Regions from separate parts of the Homo sapiens genome. Here region 1 is linked to region 2. Evidence: fine-mapped expression QTL. A gene starts in region 2. The other region holds a variant in brackets. All regions are shown on one strand. Distances are between the middles of the regions. Region 1 holds the start of MIR3945HG (MIR3945 host gene). Region 2 holds the start of ACSL1 (acyl-CoA synthetase long chain family member 1).

Evidence for each region. PIP is the estimated chance that this variant, and not a neighbour inherited with it, causes the effect.
Region 1: its variant is fine-mapped to the expression of ACSL1 in whole blood (TOPMed, PIP 0.96).

What each region holds. Positions count from the first base shown.
Region 1 is chr4:184,850,074-184,859,275 of GRCh38, reverse strand. MIR3945HG (MIR3945 host gene) reads left to right here and starts at 3,624. Exons shown (of 3, transcript NR_132989.1): 1 at 3,624-3,807; 2 at 8,677-8,781. MIR3945 (microRNA 3945) reads left to right here and starts at 8,166; the gene lies at 8,166-8,263. RefSeq lists an enhancer at 8,647-8,716. The variant T/C (reference allele first, on the strand shown) is at 4,510.
Region 2 is chr4:184,821,170-184,830,371 of GRCh38, reverse strand. ACSL1 (acyl-CoA synthetase long chain family member 1) reads left to right here and starts at 4,404. Exons shown (of 21, transcript NM_001995.5): 1 at 4,404-4,456. It overlaps LOC105377587 (a long non-coding RNA gene), which reads right to left and starts at 4,201. Exons shown (of 3, transcript XR_939564.4): 1 at 3,401-4,201. RefSeq lists enhancers at 3,226-3,505, 3,676-3,725, 3,332-3,835, 5,086-5,155 and a silencer at 3,956-4,915.

The sequences.
Region 1 (9,202 bases), 29 kb before region 2:
GAGGTTATGATATTATCTAGGTAGGTAGCCCTTTCTTAATGGCCTCAGTCTAACCCAACACTTTATCATATGGGGAGAAAATGTATAATGGAACTGTGAGGAAAAATCTGGAAGAATGGGTTGCTGGTGCCAGAGAGGAGGTGACTGGAAAGTGTAACAGCCTCTCTTGCCCTGCCCTGAAGCCACTTCCACGTGCCTCAGAGCCTTTGAGCCTCCAGCAACTCTGCCATCTGCTCCAGGTGTGAACTTTGCACACAGTGAGCTCACTGAGGTCTGGCCTACTGATCAGCTGTCTTATTCCCCCCTTTCAAAAAAAGGAGCTGCACCGTCATGAGTACAAACAACTTGCCTGGGTCTACAACCCCAAGGTGACAATGTGGAGTTGTGATCCCAGGTCTTCAGAGGACCAGCTGGGACCTTTGGGACCCCAAGGTGACGATGTGGAGTTGTGATCCCAGGTCTTCAGAGGACCAGCTGGGACCTTTGGGACCCCGAGGTGACGATGTGGAGTTGTGATCCCAGGTCTTCAGAGGACCAGCTGGGACCTTTGGGACCCCGAGGTGACGATGTGGAGTTGTGATCCCGGGTCTTCAGAGGACCAGCTGGGACCTTTGGGACCCCGAGGTGACGATGTGGAGTTGTGATCCCGGGTCTTCAGAGGACCAGCTGGGACCTTTGGGACCCCGAGGTGACGATGTGGAGTTGTGATCCCGGGTCTTCAGAGGACCAGCTGGGACCTTTGGGACCCCGAGGTGACGATGTGGAGTTGTGATCCCGGGTCTTCAGAGGATCAGCTGGGACCTTTGGGACCCCGAGGTGACGATGTGGAGTTGTGATCCCGGGTCTTCAGAGGACCAGCTGGGACCTTTGGGACCCCGAGGTGACGATGTGGAGTTGTGATCCCGGGTCTTCAGAGGACCAGCTGGGACCTTTGGGACCCCGAGGTGACGATGTGGAGTTGTGATCCCGGGTCTTCAGAGGACCAGCTGGGACCTTTGGGACCCCGAGGTGACGATGTGGAGTTGTGATCCCGGGTCTTCAGAGGACCAGCTGGGACCTTTGGGAGATGCAGAGCTGCTGCGGCGCTCTTCACATGCACTTGATCTGCTGTGTCCACTAAATCTACCCCACTTCTAACACCCCAGTCCTGGACTCCGTGGGTGCAAAACGTGAGTCTCTGCACCCCTCTTCACATCCCTGGGGGGCTTGAGAATAAGCCAGCAGCCCTGAGCTGGGCTCCTTGGCCTGGCCATGACTGCCAATGAGGGGCCTTGAGTCTGTGTCCTCAGCCCCCAGCCTGTCCCCATTTTGGGGACTTGAACAGACCCACAGTGTCAGTTCCTCCCATAAAAAGATTTCAGGGGACAGCAGCACTTCCTCTTGGCCCCCAGGCACTTGAAGGCCGCCTGCACCCCCCATTCCTAGGCCTTGCCAGCCTGAGGGCAAGCTCCTTACATGACCTGCAGCTTCAGAAACTAGGCCCTCCTCCTTACTTCCCATCACCCATTTTGTCAAAGAACCTAGAATATTTTGTTATCCGAGAAGCCTGGCTTTCGACAAACCGTAGGATTGCTAGTATCTCTTTATGGAGTGGACTTGAACTGTTTATTGCAACTGTGACATGTGGCAAATCATTTTACTGTTCTGAGGCTTTACTTCCTTCTAGTTAGAATGAGCATTAGGCCGGGCATGGTGGCTCACGCTTGTAATCCCAGCACTTTGGGAGGCCAAGGCAGGTGAATCACGAGGTCAGGAGTTCAAGACCAGACTGGCCAAGATGGTGAAACCCCGTCTCTACTAAAAATTCAAAAATTAGCTGGATGTGGTGGCGGGCACCTGTAATCCCAGCTACTCGGGAGGCTGAGGCAGAGAATTGCTTGAACCCGGGAGGCAGAGGTTGCAGTGAGACAAGATCGTGCCACTGCACTCCAGCCTGGGTGACAGAGCAAGACTCCATCTCAAAAAAAAAAGAAAAAAAAAAGAGCATTAAATATATGACATCTTTAAAACTGTGTGGATTTAGAACTGAGGTATCTTCTTTGTTACCTGAGGAGGGAAACATGCTTATGGGGCTAATGTCATTTTAATTTTGGGGTAGGTCTGTCTGTCTTCTGTGGGGTGGGGGAGAGTGAAAATTTTCTCTGCTGTAGGTGAAGACCTCTAGGCTTTATTTTCAACTCATATGCCTCATGCTATTGTTCGAGAATCATCTTTTCTATTCATATAAGCTATATCATACTGATCTTTTTTTTAACCTTATTTATTATTTTTTATTTTTGAGATGGAGTCTCCCCCTGTCACCCAGGCTGGAGTATAGTGGTGCAATCTCAGTTCACTGCAACCTCTGCCTCCAGGGTTCAAGTGATTCCCCTGCCTCAGCCTCCAGAGTAGCTGGGATTACAGGCGCGCACCACCACACCTGGATAATTTTTGTATTTTTAGTAGAGACGGGGTTTCACCATGTTGTCCAGGCTGGTCTCGAACTCGTGACCTCGGGTGATCCGCCCGACTCAGCCTCCCAAAGTGCTGGGATTACAGACATGAGCCACTGCACTCAGCCCCCCTTTTTTTTTTTAACTTTAAAATCCACTTGTGACACTTTTGTAAAATACCATCAACCTTGTGTATTAAGCTACTGTTGTGACAGCCATGATAATTTCCCTCTGAAAATGGTTTGGAGACATGAAATAATAAAAATAACCTTTAAAATGCATTATCACTCTGATTCTATTAGGAAAAACGGAAGTCACTGGATTTAAACTATGTCAATGCCCTGTACTTTCTGTCTGTCAGTAGGTGCTGTAACTGTTGGCTAAATGATTATTTTTCATGCTTCCTTTCTCATTTCTGCTTTTTTAGATATTTAAAATGTCCTTGTTTCTTGGTGAGCAGAATTATTTCCTACCTCATGACCATGAGTCATGACCTTATACTCTTCTTTCAGTACAGGAGAAAGCTTCATTAATTTACTAATGCATTCATTCCACAAGTAAACTTCTGCAATCCTCGTTTATTCATATACTTTGACAAAAACAAAGAGACCCACAAGCTTTTTGAGTCTTCACAACCCAAAACATGTATTTGAAACTGAAAATTCAATCATTCCATGTTTATAGGCATATTGCTTGATAGAAACATATAAATCATTACCTGAATTTTTTTTTTTTTTTTTTTTTTTTGAGACGGAGTCTCACTCTGTCACCCAGGCTGGAGTGCAGTGGTGCAGTCTCAGCTCACTACAACCTCTGCCTCCCGGGTTCAAGCTATTCTCCTGCCTCAGTCTCCTGAGTAGCTGGGATTACAGGCGCCCACCACCACACCCGGCTAATTTTTTTTTTTTAATTTTTAATCGAGACGGAGTTTTACCATGTTGGCCACGCTGGTCTCGAACTCCTGACCTCTGGTGATCCACCCGCCTTGGCCTCCCAAAGTGCTGGGATTACAGGCATGAGCCACCGCGCCCAGCCTGGATTTTTTTTAATCCAACCCAGTTCCATATTTTCCTCTAGAGAGACTGACTCACCAAGCCTATCTCCTTTTCCTGGAAACACAATCAAATTAACTTTCCAGTCACCGCTGTGTCTAGGTGTGGCCATATGAGTAGTTCTCACCAGTGGAATGTAGTGAAAACGAGATGCTGTCTCTTAGGGACTAAGGAAGCTATCTTTCCTCTTCCGACATTTGCTGACTGGTCGATGCTAGATGATCTTGAGACCCTGTGCTGAGGACTGGAGAACTACAGGAAAGGAGCAGTATCTCTGAATTATCGTGTGGAAGGTCACTTGTCTAGCCCCTGATGACTGTGAGGTAAGTCGTTAGGGATCTGGGGTTGTCTGATACAGCAGTTAGCAGGTCCTGACTGACATATCCCTCTTATTCTTTAAGTTGAACAAATTAGAGACTGGAGTGTTTTGGGTAGCCTTGCTATATGGCATGGTCGAAGACGGTGCTTCGCAGGTGATTTACAACCCTCCTACCATTTACTCTGTCTTCATTTCAAGCAGTATAACCTATAATTTCCTAATCTTCAGCAGAATAGGAAAAGGGGCTCAAAGCCACAAACACACACGCTTCCTTTCAATGTACCTTTGTTGCTCAGCCACAGTGGCGAGTTCACGCGCCTGGCAAGACCTCTCCCTATTTGGGCATTTTGTGAATACAGAAGAATGGGCGCCCTGGTGTGACCCAACATCAGAATCCAAAACATGGCATCTTTACCTAGCCCTTTTCGCTTCTTTTAGATCATTCAATAAACATAATCTGTTTTCTTTCAAAATAACATGGTTATCTAATTCCCTTCATTAGCAGCTAGCAAAAGAGGCCCTGGGCTTCCCGTGAGCTAATTCACTGGGTCCCTGAGGTCGTTGCGGGCTTTCCCTCTCACTCTTGCAACAGACACAATCTCACTTCTTTAATGTAAAGTATGGTTTTTCTGTCGAAATGTGCTTCCTGTTTTCTTTATCGTAACTTACAGGCATGATTGCCTGGGTCTTCTCTCATTATTCCCAG[T/C]CCACTGCCTCTTCATATTTAGTGGTACTTCTGTCTTACTGGTCCCTGGAAATTTATCTCAGATCATTTCCTTTTGGGTCTATCTCTTCTTTAAGAGAAATAATTTTAAAGTCAAAGCTCCATAATACAGAGATCTGTTCTCTTTCCCACCATCTGTTTTCTGAACCTCCCCTCCTGGTTCAAGCCTCTGTAGGATAATTTGAACACAAACCATTGACTGCCAACTGAAATCGAACAAGATAATGTCCAATTTGCCCTTTTTTCTCTCTGATTTGTCCCAATGTTTACATTTCTCCATCAATCAATGAACAAATCACTTTGGTACAGTGTGCCAGTAGCTTTGAGAGGAGCACAGAAGCAATACAAGCAAGCTCACCAGTAACTTATGAGGCTCGCTTACCCAAAGCCATTCAAGAATAAGACAGTAGATAACACCAGCCACCTGGTGTATATAGAAAGTGCATTCAGAGGGCCGGGCACGGTGGCTCACGCCTGTAATCCCAGCACTTTGGGAGGCCGAGGCGGGCAGATCACGAGGTCAGGAGATCGAGACCATCCTGGCTAACACGGTGAAACCCCGTCTCTACTAAAAATGCAAAAAATTAGCTGGGCGTGGTGGTGGGCGCCTGTAGTCCCAGCTACTCGGGAGGCTGAGGCAGGAGAATGGCATGAACCCGGGAGGCGGAGCTTGCAGTGAGCCGAGATCGCGCCACTGCACTCCAGGCTGGGCGACAGAGCGAGACTCTGTCTCAAAAAAAAAAAAAAGAAAAAAGAAAGTGCATTCAGAATTGGGGAGGGGAGAGATCAATGTGTGTTAGAGCCAAGGAAACATTTAGTAAAGATGGAATTTAGCCCTTAAGGACTGTCAGGCCAGAGCAATAGGAAGTACAAACATTTCATATGTAGAGAATAACACGAACAAGGCACAAGAGCAGAAATATGAGTAACAGCCTCAGTGGGTCCTATTCGTTATGCACCTATCATGTCCCTTGCACTATGCCGGGCCCTTTGCACTCATTATATACGATGCTCACAGCAATCCTGAGATTGTGAGGCGGGTATTTTACAAATACAAGAAGTCAGTTTTAGAGAAGTACTAAATGGCAGACTCAGGATTCATGTCTGCACTTCATTCACTGCGTAGGAAGGTGAGGGTGGTTAAGGAGGTGCCACTCTGGGAGCAGAAGGCAGTCACTGGAGCAGATCAGTGGAGCTACGTTACGGAGATCCGGGATGGTCCGTGAGGATGCTGGGCCTCACCTGGTAAGCAACAGGGACTGCTGTAGAAGCTTTAGCACAGAAATAGGATGACAAACTTTAGTCAGACAAAATCTGAGTTCAAGGCCGTGTTCTGTGTTAGCTGTGTGACTGGGAACCACCGTTAAACCTGCTGAGATTGTTTCCTCCTCTATAAAATGTGTTCAACAGCAATATCAATGTATAACATTGAAAGGCTTAAATGAGATTTTACTAAAGCACCTGAGATATAGTTAGCATTTACTATATGATAGAGGTTGTTGCTGTTACTACTGCTACTACCACCACCACTGCTACCACAACAGCACTTAAGGAAGGATGATAATCTGGAGAAAAACAGCTAACAGATATTTCGTGAAGACATGAAATGAGATGGCATAGATAGATAGATAGATAGATAGATAGATAGATAGAGTTATATGCCATTTGGTTATATATACATAATCAAAACTTGACTCTGGGAGTATAGATGAATAAAGGTGAATTAGAATCTAGTATAAAGAGAGAAGATCGGAGAATGAGGATTGACACATCTGGGGCACCCACAGTTGGGGAGCGGGACACGGGAGAGAGTCAGTGACAGACACAAGGAAAATGCAGAGGAAGAGGTAAGATGGTCACGTAGACCACAGCAGTCAGGTAACAGAAGAGGTTCCTCAAAAGGCTAGGGAGGTCTACTGTGCCCAGGGCTGCTGTGGGGAGAAAAGATTGAGGACTAGGAAAAGGCTTGTGCAGTTGGGGCAGTGACAACATGGAACACAGACTGGGAGGAACCAGGTGGGAATAAAAGACACTGGCCACAGCCACAGGCACTGCTCATTCATCTGAGGTGTAAGTATAGAGAGAGAACTCGGCTGTGGCTTGGAAGTAACAGCAAGACAAAGAAGGAGGTTATTTTTAGTTCTTGGAGAGGCCAATACCGCTGGTAATCATGAGCGAGCTTCAGTTCATCTCTACCCCTTACTATGGTGCAACTCCTCATGGACTGGTTCCTGAGCCTGCACCCTCTTAGGGTGCAGGTTAGTCCTGCACTTAGTCTGGCTTCTGTTAACTTGTTTTCTCTTTCAGGTCTCACTGTTGCTAACCCCACTCATCAACTTGATCTGTTTGCCCCCAATCCCACCATTTTGCATGACATTATGGATCCTCTGATCTTTAACAAATCCATCCAAGATTGTCTGTTTCTTCTTCTAAGGTGTCACCAGGAATGAAGATTCTTTCACCTAATTTATTTTTTTCTGGTTTCACACGTGTCTGAAAAAATAATAGCAATTATTATTATTATCATTGTAGGATTCATTTCACTCCTCTCAAACACATTCAAAAAGTCTCTTCATCTCTTCCATCATGGTGATGCTCAACTGTTACCCAACTATCCAACTGTATCTTGGAGTTTTGTAATTCCATCATGAGTTGTACTCAACTGTTATCCAACATATCTTGGAGCATGCACCAGGATGCTCCCTGACACAGCTCACTTTGCAAGTAATTCTTAGACACACACTTTCTCCACCAGGCCTGTCTAGTTGAAGTTCTCTATATCCCTGCCCCCCTCCCCACCCTGGTTAAGCATAGGACTTCCATGGTTACATCCCATTTATTCCTTTCCCAAACATGCTTAATGCATTTCATCTCCAGTTACAAACATCGTCTGCTAATGAACAATGTAGATAGTTACCATGTTGTATAAATAGTTACTTATTTCCCTTCGTTGTTGGTTTTATCCAATAAACTAGCCCGATCAGCTTCATTTTATATCACCTTATCTCATACAGATGAGAAACTGTATGTATTTCAGCCTGTCTAAACTGGAGGTAACGCTAGACTGCAGTATCCCTGCACAGTGTCGTATTAGAAATGGCACCCTATAAATTTTTTATGAGTTAATAATGATTGTGATCCCATTCCTATTTTCTACAAGTTCTTCTGTTATGGTGGCAATTAAATAGCCTCACCTTCCTTTCACTTTCTGCAAACCTGCTGCAAGTCATCATTAACTTTCTTAATTGGTAGCGGCTCTGAATTCCAGTCTTTCAGAGTTCCCGTAAACAGCATCTTTCTTAATACTTATGTCATAATGTTTTTCTCCTTTCCTTGCATTTCATTCTGCCTTTGGGCAGGAACAGCATCATTTCCTGCTCTTCTGGGGTTTCAACACTGACTGCAAAGCACCCTTGCTCATCTCACTGGGAGATTCTGCAGCCAAGCAGAGATTTGCATAAAGCCCATCCACCCTTCACCAGCACAGGATACGCAGACTTAACTGCAGGGACTCTTGGTGACTAGTCTCTGTGGTGCACACTCTCCACCCTACCACCAAAAAGGTCCCCAGTACCCTAAAAGGAACTATGTACTCAAATATCACCTCAAATAAGATGAGGTCTTTCTGAGAGAAAAGAGATGTTGATGCACGTGACGGGGAGGGCATAGGAGAGGGTTGATATAAAATGCAATTACAGCCTCTTATGCTTTCCAAAGTGGGGGATGATTCAATGATTCCTGACTGGTCCACAGCCATATATCAATTGAGGTTATAATACTAATTTGAATTGCAAATCTCTGAAAAGAAGGGGACAAGCTAAGGAGATAAAATTTAACAGGGTGAGTCCTGAATTTAGATTTAAACAAACTCCACAAGTATAAGAAGGCAGAGGCTGGCAACAGTACTTGCTGTCATGTTTAGTCGGCCACTGGTCAGTCTGAGACAGCAGTGGGTGTGATCGTGTAGCAGCTATGGAAAGCTTATGCTGCATTTAATAATAATAGTCATACTTTAAAGCATGTTTCAGTTATGAATTCATTCTGACCAGAAAAGTAACTTGCACTAGCTTAACAGTCAAATAGCAAGAAGCATAGAGAAGTGGCCGCTTGCTGTGCTTCAGCAGCTCAACAGTGTCTCTATTCTCTTAGCCTCTTCCTCCTGCTTGCCACCTCTCAGTCACAAGACGGCTGCTGCGACTCAGGCTCATGTCCCAATTCAAGGCAGCAAGAAGGCCATGGAGCGGCACCTGCCAGGTATGTCCCTTTCCCAGGCATCCCCAGCAGATTTCTCACTGTCTGAAACTGCATCCCACGGCGTTCTTAGGTGCGAGGCTGGTCTGGAGAGTCAATGCTTGGGTTTTCCAATACCTGCATGGGACATGGGCAAGATGGAAGGGAGTTGGGTTTAGGAAACCAGTAGTGCCAGCCCTTTACTCGTATCATATCTGATCCCCACAGCAACCCTGAGGAGTAGCTATTTATCATCCTTATTGAGCAAATGAAGAAAATCAGAACCAGCAACATCAAGAAAAAATGAGGAAAGACATACATTAGTAAATAATAAAGCCAGGGTTCCAATTCAGATCAGGTTGAATCCAAAATTCCTCTCCCTGCCATTATAACGCATCACAGTGTTCAGGTCATGTGGGTCTGGGAAGGATGAATCATATTCAAC
Region 2 (9,202 bases):
GAACAAAAAGAACTCAGTTACTGATGCCAATCTTCCTTTAACCAGCCAATTACCGAGGTCTGTAATTAAAAGCTCATCGGCCATTATTAATTGATGTGGCTATACTTCAGATAGCCATGCTCAAAAGCAATAGGTGCAGAAGATTAATAATAATCACAGCTTTGTAGTTCCTAATCACAAGTGGGAACTTTTGAGACAAGGCCACTGTAAACCTGCTAATCAGCTTGACCCAGAAAGACTTCGATTCTTTTTTTCTTTTCTTTCTTTCTTTTTTTTTTTTGATGTGGTCTTGCTCTGTTGCCCATGCCAAAGTGCAATGGTGCAATCACGGTTCACTGCAGTCTCGACCTCCTGGGTTCAAGAGATCCTCCCACCTCAGCCTCCCATGTAGCTGGGACTATAGGCTACAGGTGCACACCACCATGCTGGGCTAAGTTTTGTATTTTTTGTAGAGACAGGATCTCGCCATGTTGCTCACACTGGTCTCAAACTCCTGGGCTGAAGTGATCCGCCGACCTTGGCCTCCCAACATGCTGGGATTACAGGCATGTGCCACTGCACCCGGCCCAGTTCTCTTTAGCTTCTCCAGGAGATTGATCAATCGGTGTTAGGCAGATGTCAATGTGGATTTAGCCAGAATTAGCCACAACATTTTAATCAGGCCAAAATGTAACAAGGGCAGGAGTGACCGAAAAAAGACTCAAATTTCCGCTAGGAAATTTGCACCACTACAATATCCAATTGGCTCTTATTCCCTTGGCTAGAGAGATGCTTGAAAAAAAAGACAGTAGAAAGGAGGGTTAAGACTGGTTTCTTAAAGAAGTAAGTACAAGGAAGTATAAGTTCATGCTGCCTGCTTCTAAAAGAATTCTATTCCTCATAACTACATAACATTATAATGCTACTGATTCATAAGGAGTTTAGATTAATTCTATTGGAGAGGACACCAGGATTATTAGTGTTTATTTTCATCTAGGATCTTTATTCTTTAATGCTGTTGGTCCCACAGACACATTTCAGTATACAAAAACACTGCAGTGTTAATAGCCAAAAGAAAAGCCATTATGATGTGAATAGTGGTCATTGTGATCACTGTGACACAATTTTTAAAAACTTTTTCTTAGAGACGGAGGGTCTCACTATGTTGCTCAGGCTGGTCTTGAATTCCCGGACTCAAGCAATCCTCCTGCATTTGCCTCCCAAAGTGCTGGGATTACAGGTGTGAGCCACCGCACCTGGCCCAATTTTTAAAAACAATCATGTCCTTCATTTAAAAAAAAAAAAAAAAAAAAGGCCGGGCGCGGTGGCTCACGCCTGTAATCCCAGCACTTTGGGAGGCCAAGGCGGGTGGATCACGAAGTCAGGAGATCGAGACCATCCTGGCTAACACAATGAAACCCCATCTCTACTAAAAATACAAAAAACTAGCCGGGTGTGGTGGTGGGTGCCTGTGGTCCCAGCTACTTGGGAGGCTGAGGCAGGAAAATGGCATGAACCCAGGAGGTAGAGATTGCAGTGAGCCGAGATCGCACCACTGCACCCCAGCCTGGGCAACAGAGTGAGACTCCGTCTCAAAAAAAGAGACTGGTTTCTTACCTAAGTCACAAACTCCCAACTATAGAGTCTGGAATCTTCATTTAATGAGAACGCCAAGGGCGTGGCTGTCAATCCTATGACACCTGTCTGAGGTAGGTATTATTCCTGATTTAAGGAGGATGCAATGAGGCTTGATGTGGATTCACCCACCCCAAAGCCTGTGTTCTTAACCACTATGCAATACTGCCTCCCATCAAAGTCTCTATCTCAAGTCCACAAGACAACCCCATACATTGTAAAACTTTTTGGAGTGATTAGATAAAAACTTTTTTGTTTTTTTTTAAGTGTGTGTGCTGAAAGAGACCTAAGAGATTATTTAGCCAAGCCCCCTTATAGCCTGAGGAGAAATCTAGGTTCTAAGGAATGAAGTTGCTTCCCAATGTCACCTAGAAGTTCCTGCCAGAAGGAGTGTGAACTCAGGTCTGATACTGGGTTGTGTGCCTTTCCCAGCCTTGAGTTGGAAATCACCTCATTAAGGGCTAGAGCCCAGGGAGAGGCACCCAGTTTAAAAGAAAAGTGTCTTGAGGAGAAGACGTAAGGTGAGACAGCCAGTGACGACCATCCACATGTTACGGGTTGAATTGTCACCCCCACATTCCCCAAGTTCATATGTTCAGGGGTTTGTTGTTGTTGTTGTTGTTGTTTTGAGACAGAGTCTTGCTCTGTCTCCCAGGCTGGAATGCAGTGGCGTGATCTTGGCTCATTGCAACCTCCACCTCCCTGGGTTCAAACAATTCTTCTGCCTCAGCCTCCCGAGTAGCTGGGACTACAGGTACGCACCACCATGCCCCGCTAATTTTTTTATTTTTAGTAGAGACAGGGTTTCACCATGTTGGCCAGGCTGGTCTTGAACTCCTGACCTCAGTTGATCTGCCTGCCTCGGCCTCCCAAAGTGCTGGGATTACAGGCATGAACCACCGTGCCTGGGCATTCAGGTATCTTAGAATGGGACCTTACTTGGACATTACCTCATGATTACAGAGGTCATCAAGTTAAAATGAGGCAATTCGGGTGGGCCCTAGTCCAGTATGACTGGTGTCCTTATAGAAAGAAGGGATTTGCACACACACACCACAGGGAAGATGGTGTGAGGAGACATAGGGAGAAGATGGGCATCTGCAAGTCAGAGTGGCCGGGCACACATGCTCTTTCATGGGCCTCGGAAGCAGCCAGCCCTCCCACGCCGTGATTTTGTACTTCTAGTCTCCAGAACCAGGACAGACCATACATTTCGGTTGTTGAAGCCACTTAGTGTGTGGTACTTCGTTCCAGCAGCCCTTGAAAACAATAGACCACAGAACTTGGGAGGTGCCTGCAGAGGTTCTGGGGCTGAGGGACCGGTTGGAGAAGAGGAAAAAGGAGAGGCAAAGATGACAAAATCACGGATGGGGAGGCGAGATCTGGACAGAAAAACCAGGGATTAGCCAAGCGGGAACCAGTGAAAACGAACGTGGAGTCCATTTTTTCTAGATCTGGAAGATGGAGATCTAAAAGGACTGAGCTGCTAGAGAGGTTGCTGGTGTGTGCGTTGTCCTCACCCCACTGCACCACTGCGCCCAGCACACTGTGGGAGACACCCAGGGAAAGTCCTTCAGTTATTTGTGGGAGTGAACTGCAGTGTGGCTGAGGCCTGGAGCGAACCACGGTCAGTTTCCCCTGCCTGCAGCCCAGGCATAGCCCTGCGTTGGTTGTGCCCACACTCTGGGGGCAGCCTGAGTGCCAAGTGTGGTACTGCTCTCACTAGCATTTAACCTCTGTGCCCCAGCTTCCTCTTCTGTGAAAGGACAGTAATGACAGTACCTACCTCACTGGGTTATGAAGATTAAATAGAATAATGTGTACGCAGTGTTTGTAGCAATGCCTGGCATCAAGCACTGGGTAAACAGTATCTATTATTATCAAAGGCCTTTACGACAACAATCATTCTTCAAACGGCCCTCCAGCGAACGCTGGGCGCAAACTCCACGGTAACGGGGACCAATGTTGTTAGAGGTTGAGGTTCCTGGTAGGTCCCAGGTGCTAAAAGGAAGAGCAGCCTTTGGGATGTGAGCCCGAAAACCATCGTGTTGGCTTCTGAAGCCCCAAGATGGGCATGGCAGGGACGCGGAAGCCCTCAGAACCGCGGAAGCCCTCAGAACCGCACAGCAGGTGGCCGCCGTGGTGCAGCGCGCAGTCGGCCCTCAGCTCCCCTGCACCGGCGCGAGCTGCGGGCGCTGCCCACGTCAGGCTCTGCAGACACCAGACAGAAAAGGTCTTCCGGCCAGGGAGCGTGGGGGAAACCCTGTGGGGCCGCGCCCGTCAGTGTCAAGGAAAAACGGAGAGGAAGGCCCTTGCCTCCAGGGCCCTCGCAGCAGAATTCTGCCCGGCCTGCCAGGAGGCCAGCGGGGCACGGGCTGAGGGTGCAGGATCCGGAGGGCGCCGCCCGCCCCTCGGGCATCGCGGGGCCCAGGGTCCGCGGGGCCTCTGAGCTGAGGCGGTCCAATGTACCCTTTGTCCTTCCTCAGATTCATTATGAAATCCGAGGCAGTCTGGGCGACTCCAGCGGCGTTCGCCCGCCGCAGCCTCTCGACCGCCGGCCACCCGCCAGCCACGCGCGCCCAGACAGGAGGGCGGCCGGGCGCTCGGCGGGGCGGGGCCTGCCGGGGGCGGGGCCTGCGGGCGGGGCGGGGCCGCGGGAGGGCGGGGCCGGCGCGGCGAGCGCACCAGCAGCATCCTGGCTCAGCCGCGGCGGTGGCGGGGGCGCAACCAGCGGGCCGAGGCGGCGGCGCCAGCGGCGCCTTAAATAGCATCCAGAGCCGGCGCGGGGCAGGGAGTGGGCTGCAGTGACAGCCGGCGGCGGAGCGGCCGGTCCACGGAGGAGGTGAGTGCGCCCGCCGTGCGGAGCCGCGCCTGCTCCCGCGGCGGTGCCCGGGCCCCGGCCGAGGCGCCGGCTGACGTTGCCCTTCAGGGCCGAGCCCGGAGCAGCGGCCGCCGCGGAGGCGCGTGAGCCACCCCAGGCTCGTGGGGCCGCGCCGCCTTTCCGGCCTCCTGCCCGCGGCCCCGCTTCCCTCGGCAGCCGGAGGCCTCCGGGGTGCCCGTGCTGCCGCAGCTTCCTGTGTCTGAGTCGCGGGCGGCGCGGGCGCGGGGCTGGTGCGCGGCCGGGGATGCGCGCGGGACCGACCCTTGTGTGTGCGGCGGCGGGGACCGGCCCGGCGAAGCAGCCGGAGGCCGCGCTTCGGCTGGGAGGAGGTGGCCCAGCTGGGCCGCTGACGTTGCCCTCGTCCGCGGCCCCCGCCTGCCCAGAGGCCGGGCTCGCGGGCGTTCGGACCGCGCGTGGGGCGAGACTGCACTCGCGCCCGCTGAGATGCCGGCCCCACGCAGCGCGGCGGCACGAGGCCCACAGGCAGCTCAGAGGCCGCTGCCAGAGGCAGACATTCTCTCGGTGACTCCAGAGGAGTGCCCGTGGCCCTTGCACTTGGCCGTGGAGTCATTGATCTAAGGAGTGCTGGCATTTTTTGAAATTGAGAAGCAAAGATGATGTCTGTCACCTGGCAGCGTAGACGGAGAGTGGCGGTAGATGACTTGAATGGACACGTGGATTCGAGTCTGGGGACAGGCGTTCCCCCAGTCGGTGCGTTGTGAGAGTGTGGAAACCCCTTCCCCACTCAGTCCAATTTCAAGGTTATGGAGCATAATTAAGAGTGACCATTCTAAAAGCGTTCTCTAGTGCCCTGGCTAAGACTTTTAAGCTTCTTGGTGCAGGAGTGTCTAAAGTCCCGCGACTCTCACTGCCCTGTCTTTTATTTTCTTGACCTTTGATTAGCGTTGAGAGAAACTGGTTAAATCTTGCAGTTTCTGCCACCCATTTCACAACTTAACCTGTGATTGTCCCAAAGAAAACAATTATTGGCTTCTTGCTAGCAAAAAAATCAAAGGCTTCCGGTTGATTGTTTCTTTCTTTTTTTTCTTTTTTCAAGTGGACGTGGAAGGTTAGGCTGGCTAAAACTTAAAGTTTGAGTTGTAGGTCTGTGCTGGGTAGGCTTGAGAAGATGGAGCTTTTTAAGGAACCATTGCTCGCCATCAGATTGGAGCCAGACAGTGCAGTGTGATATAGTGGAAAAGGACCAGGTCTTGGGAGACTTACTTTCTTGTTCTGACTCAACTCGGAAAACACCTCCCTAGTCTGAGGCCCCCCTCCTTATATTTGTGAACAAACTGCATTAGACTAAAATCTTTCACGAGTCCAAATTCTGCGACTAGAAAAATAAACTTGTTAGCCGCACACCTTATACCTCTCCCCTTTAAAACAGACATATTAAAGACTTCTGTTTTCTGAATTTACTGTAAACAGAATACTTAAAAAAAAATTACCCAGACAGGCGTGGTGGCTCACTGTAATCCCAGCACTTTGGGAGACCGAGGCGGGCAGATCATTTGAGGTCAGGAGTTCGAGACCAGCCTGACCAACATGGAGAAACCCTATCTCTACTAAAAATACAAATAATTAGCCAGGCGTGGTGGCATGCATCTCTAGTCCCAGCTACTCGAGAGGCTGAGCCAGGAGAATCGCTTGAACTCAGGAGGCAGAAGTTGTGATGAGCTGAGATCCCGCCACTGCACTCCAGACTGGGCAACAGAGCAGGACTCTGTAAAAAACAAAACAAAACAAAAAATTACCCTTCCCCACAATTATAAGCATTTTGGCATATTTCCTTCCTGTCTCTGTTGTTCCTATTTTGGCAGTATTTTTATTGTTATCGCAGGCAGCCTGACTGAAAAGAAATCTGGGCTTCTAAGTTTTTGGTATTTAGGAGGTAGATACAAGTGACCCATGCATGTAGGGTTAGGTATCTATTTATACCATGCAGGTAGAGTTTTCATAGCCACCTCTACTTTTGGGTGAAGTTTAGGCTAACTGAAAGTGTACCAGCATGCATGGTGTATGCAGAAAAATGAACGTAATTCAGATTATGTGATAGTTTTCTCTTGTTGCCATTATATATAACCCAGGGCTTACCACAAACTGAAATTTCTTATGCATTGACATTTAGCATTTGATGTAAAATGACTATCTCAGAGTTGCTGCCACAAACACTGGTAAAACTGTCCCTACTTTCTAGCATGCTTAATGTCTAGGTCTTGCTACATCTTTTTTGATGTAACTGTTTTGTGGAAAATGGTTGTGTGTTTGGGGAGGCTTTTGAGAAAAGATAAGGTTGTCTTGTCATTATAACTGGGTATTTCTCCTCTCTCCCTTCCAGTTTCACTTGTCTGGAAATAGCAAGACTATAGGAGTAGTAATTTCTAGATATTTATAGTCAGTAACCTTAGAGGAATGTTTAGTTTTTAAGATCAATTGAATTTATTGTGTAAGTTTGCCATTTAAAACAGGTGCCCATTTGTGTTTACTGTCTCTTGTAACCAAACTCTGTTCAATTAGAATCCATTAGTAATGTTTTGTGGAGAGTCTTGTTTGGATGATGCAGTGCATGAGGCTCCTGTACTACAAAATAGAAAAGAAGTTCCTCTAAGGCAGCTCAAAGCTGTTGATATCCTGAAGCCTTTTTAGGCCTCCCTCTCTGACAGGCGGTGATCTGACAGGAGGTAGATAAAGGTGCCGGAGTTTTTAGTGAAGGTTGGCAGTCCAACTTGGTAGTCAGACAAACACATGATGGTCAAAAGTGCCTTTGACACTGGGGCCTGGAGAAGAATTCTCAGTGGCCAGAGCTGATCTGAAGCTGCAGGCAGTTGAGTTTGAGTTTCAACATGTTGGTACTTCAAGGGGCTTCTGAAAAGTTTTAAAGGAGCACAAGCCCTGAAGGAGTAGCTGAACTTAGTGAACTGGAGAAGGCAGGGGCAGTTTTACCAGGGTTTGTGGCAGCGACTCTAAGATTGTCATTTTACATCAAATGCTGAATGTCAATGCATAAGAAATTTCAGTTTGTGGCAAGCCTTGGGTTGTATATAATGGCAAGAAGAGAAAACTATCACATAATCTGAGTTATGTTCATTTTCTACATCATGACATTTTCACTTTCTTTTTTTTTTCTTTTTTCCCAGATAAGGTCTCACTCTGTCGCCCAGGTTGGAGTACAGGCATGATCATGGCTCGTTGCAGCCTCTCCACCTCCCTGGGCTCAGTTGATCCTCCCACTTCAGCCTCTCCAGTAGCTTAGACTACAGGCGCACATCACTATGCCCAGCTAATTTTTGTATTTTTTTCGTAGTGAAGCGGTTTTGCCATATTGCCCAGTTGTCTCGAACTCCTGGGCTCAAGCGATTTGCCCTCCTTGGCCTCCCCAAAGTGCTAGGATTACAGGCGTGAGCCACTGCACCCAGCCCACTTTCATGTTCTTGACTGTGTTAGAAACAACACAGTATTGATTCACTTATGACCTTTGAGGAATCAAGAGGGGCGGGTGAAATATTGGAGACTCCTTGAAGTGTGGCTGGCTTGGAGGGTGTCACCCTTGGACAAAAACTTAAGTGGAGGTGAGTAAGGGCCCTGCTCCCCTGTGCTGCCTGCCTTAGAAGGATGTGATCATCTGGAGGCAAATAGCTTGTTGCTTGAGGCCAGGAGTTCAAGACCAGCCTGGGCAACAGAGCAAGACCCCATCTCTAGAAAAAAAAAAGTAAAAACAATAAAATAAAATCTCAAAACTGGTGGTTCCATATAGGTGCCTGGGCTGATTCTCTTTATGAATTATTTGCTGGTCTTCAAGTTTAAATAAAATTCTGAAAGCTGTCTAATATCTAAAAACCACTTGCCACAGAAAAGCTGTATTTGTTTTTCATATTTTAAGAGTCATACATACTTACTGGAGAAAATTTGGGAAATAGGAAAAATGAAGCTCTTCCAGAGATTAAATACTATTAACATTTTGTTATATTTCCTTCCAGTCTTTTTTCCCTATACAATAAACAAATTTTAAGCATACATTGTTAATTAAAGATTACAATTTTGACAATTTAACTTTATCACCTAAGTTATATTGTGGGCTTTTTTACACGTTGTTACATATTCTTCAAAAAATAAGTTCTGAAGATGACTGCATTATTTGCTGTATGGGCCATAATTTAGTTACTTCTCCCCATTTGTTGGATATTTTTCAGAACAGTTTACCAACCTTTGTTATATGTTTAAATACGTCTTTAAAAAATAAAAAATGTTCTGCTTTAAAACTCTTGAAATTAACAATAATTTGAAAAGTGTTTTTACTAATGAATAGGTTTAATGGACTTTTGGGTTCATGTATTCTAGTCAAAAGCAGTTGAAATAGGGATTTCATGGTTTGGAAAGAGAAATGGAAAGAAGTTAGGGCATCAGAGGAGGAAACGGGGCCTGCCTGTAGACCATTTCCTCATTCTGGAGGGGACTTCTGATAAATGTAGGCTCTATCCATTAGCACAGCTTTGGCTGCTATAGAAATGGGCACTTTCCCCTTAGGTTTGTTGTGGGAGAAATGTCCATATAAGAAGGACTGAAACACTCTGAATACTATTTATTCCTTTATTAAGCAGAGTCATGAGAAAGTGCTTCCGGAGCTAGTTTCTCCTTCAGGGTCCAGGTGTCTGCCACAAAGCAGGGCTGTGGTAGCTGACCGAGGTGGTAGCCACAGCCTGGACA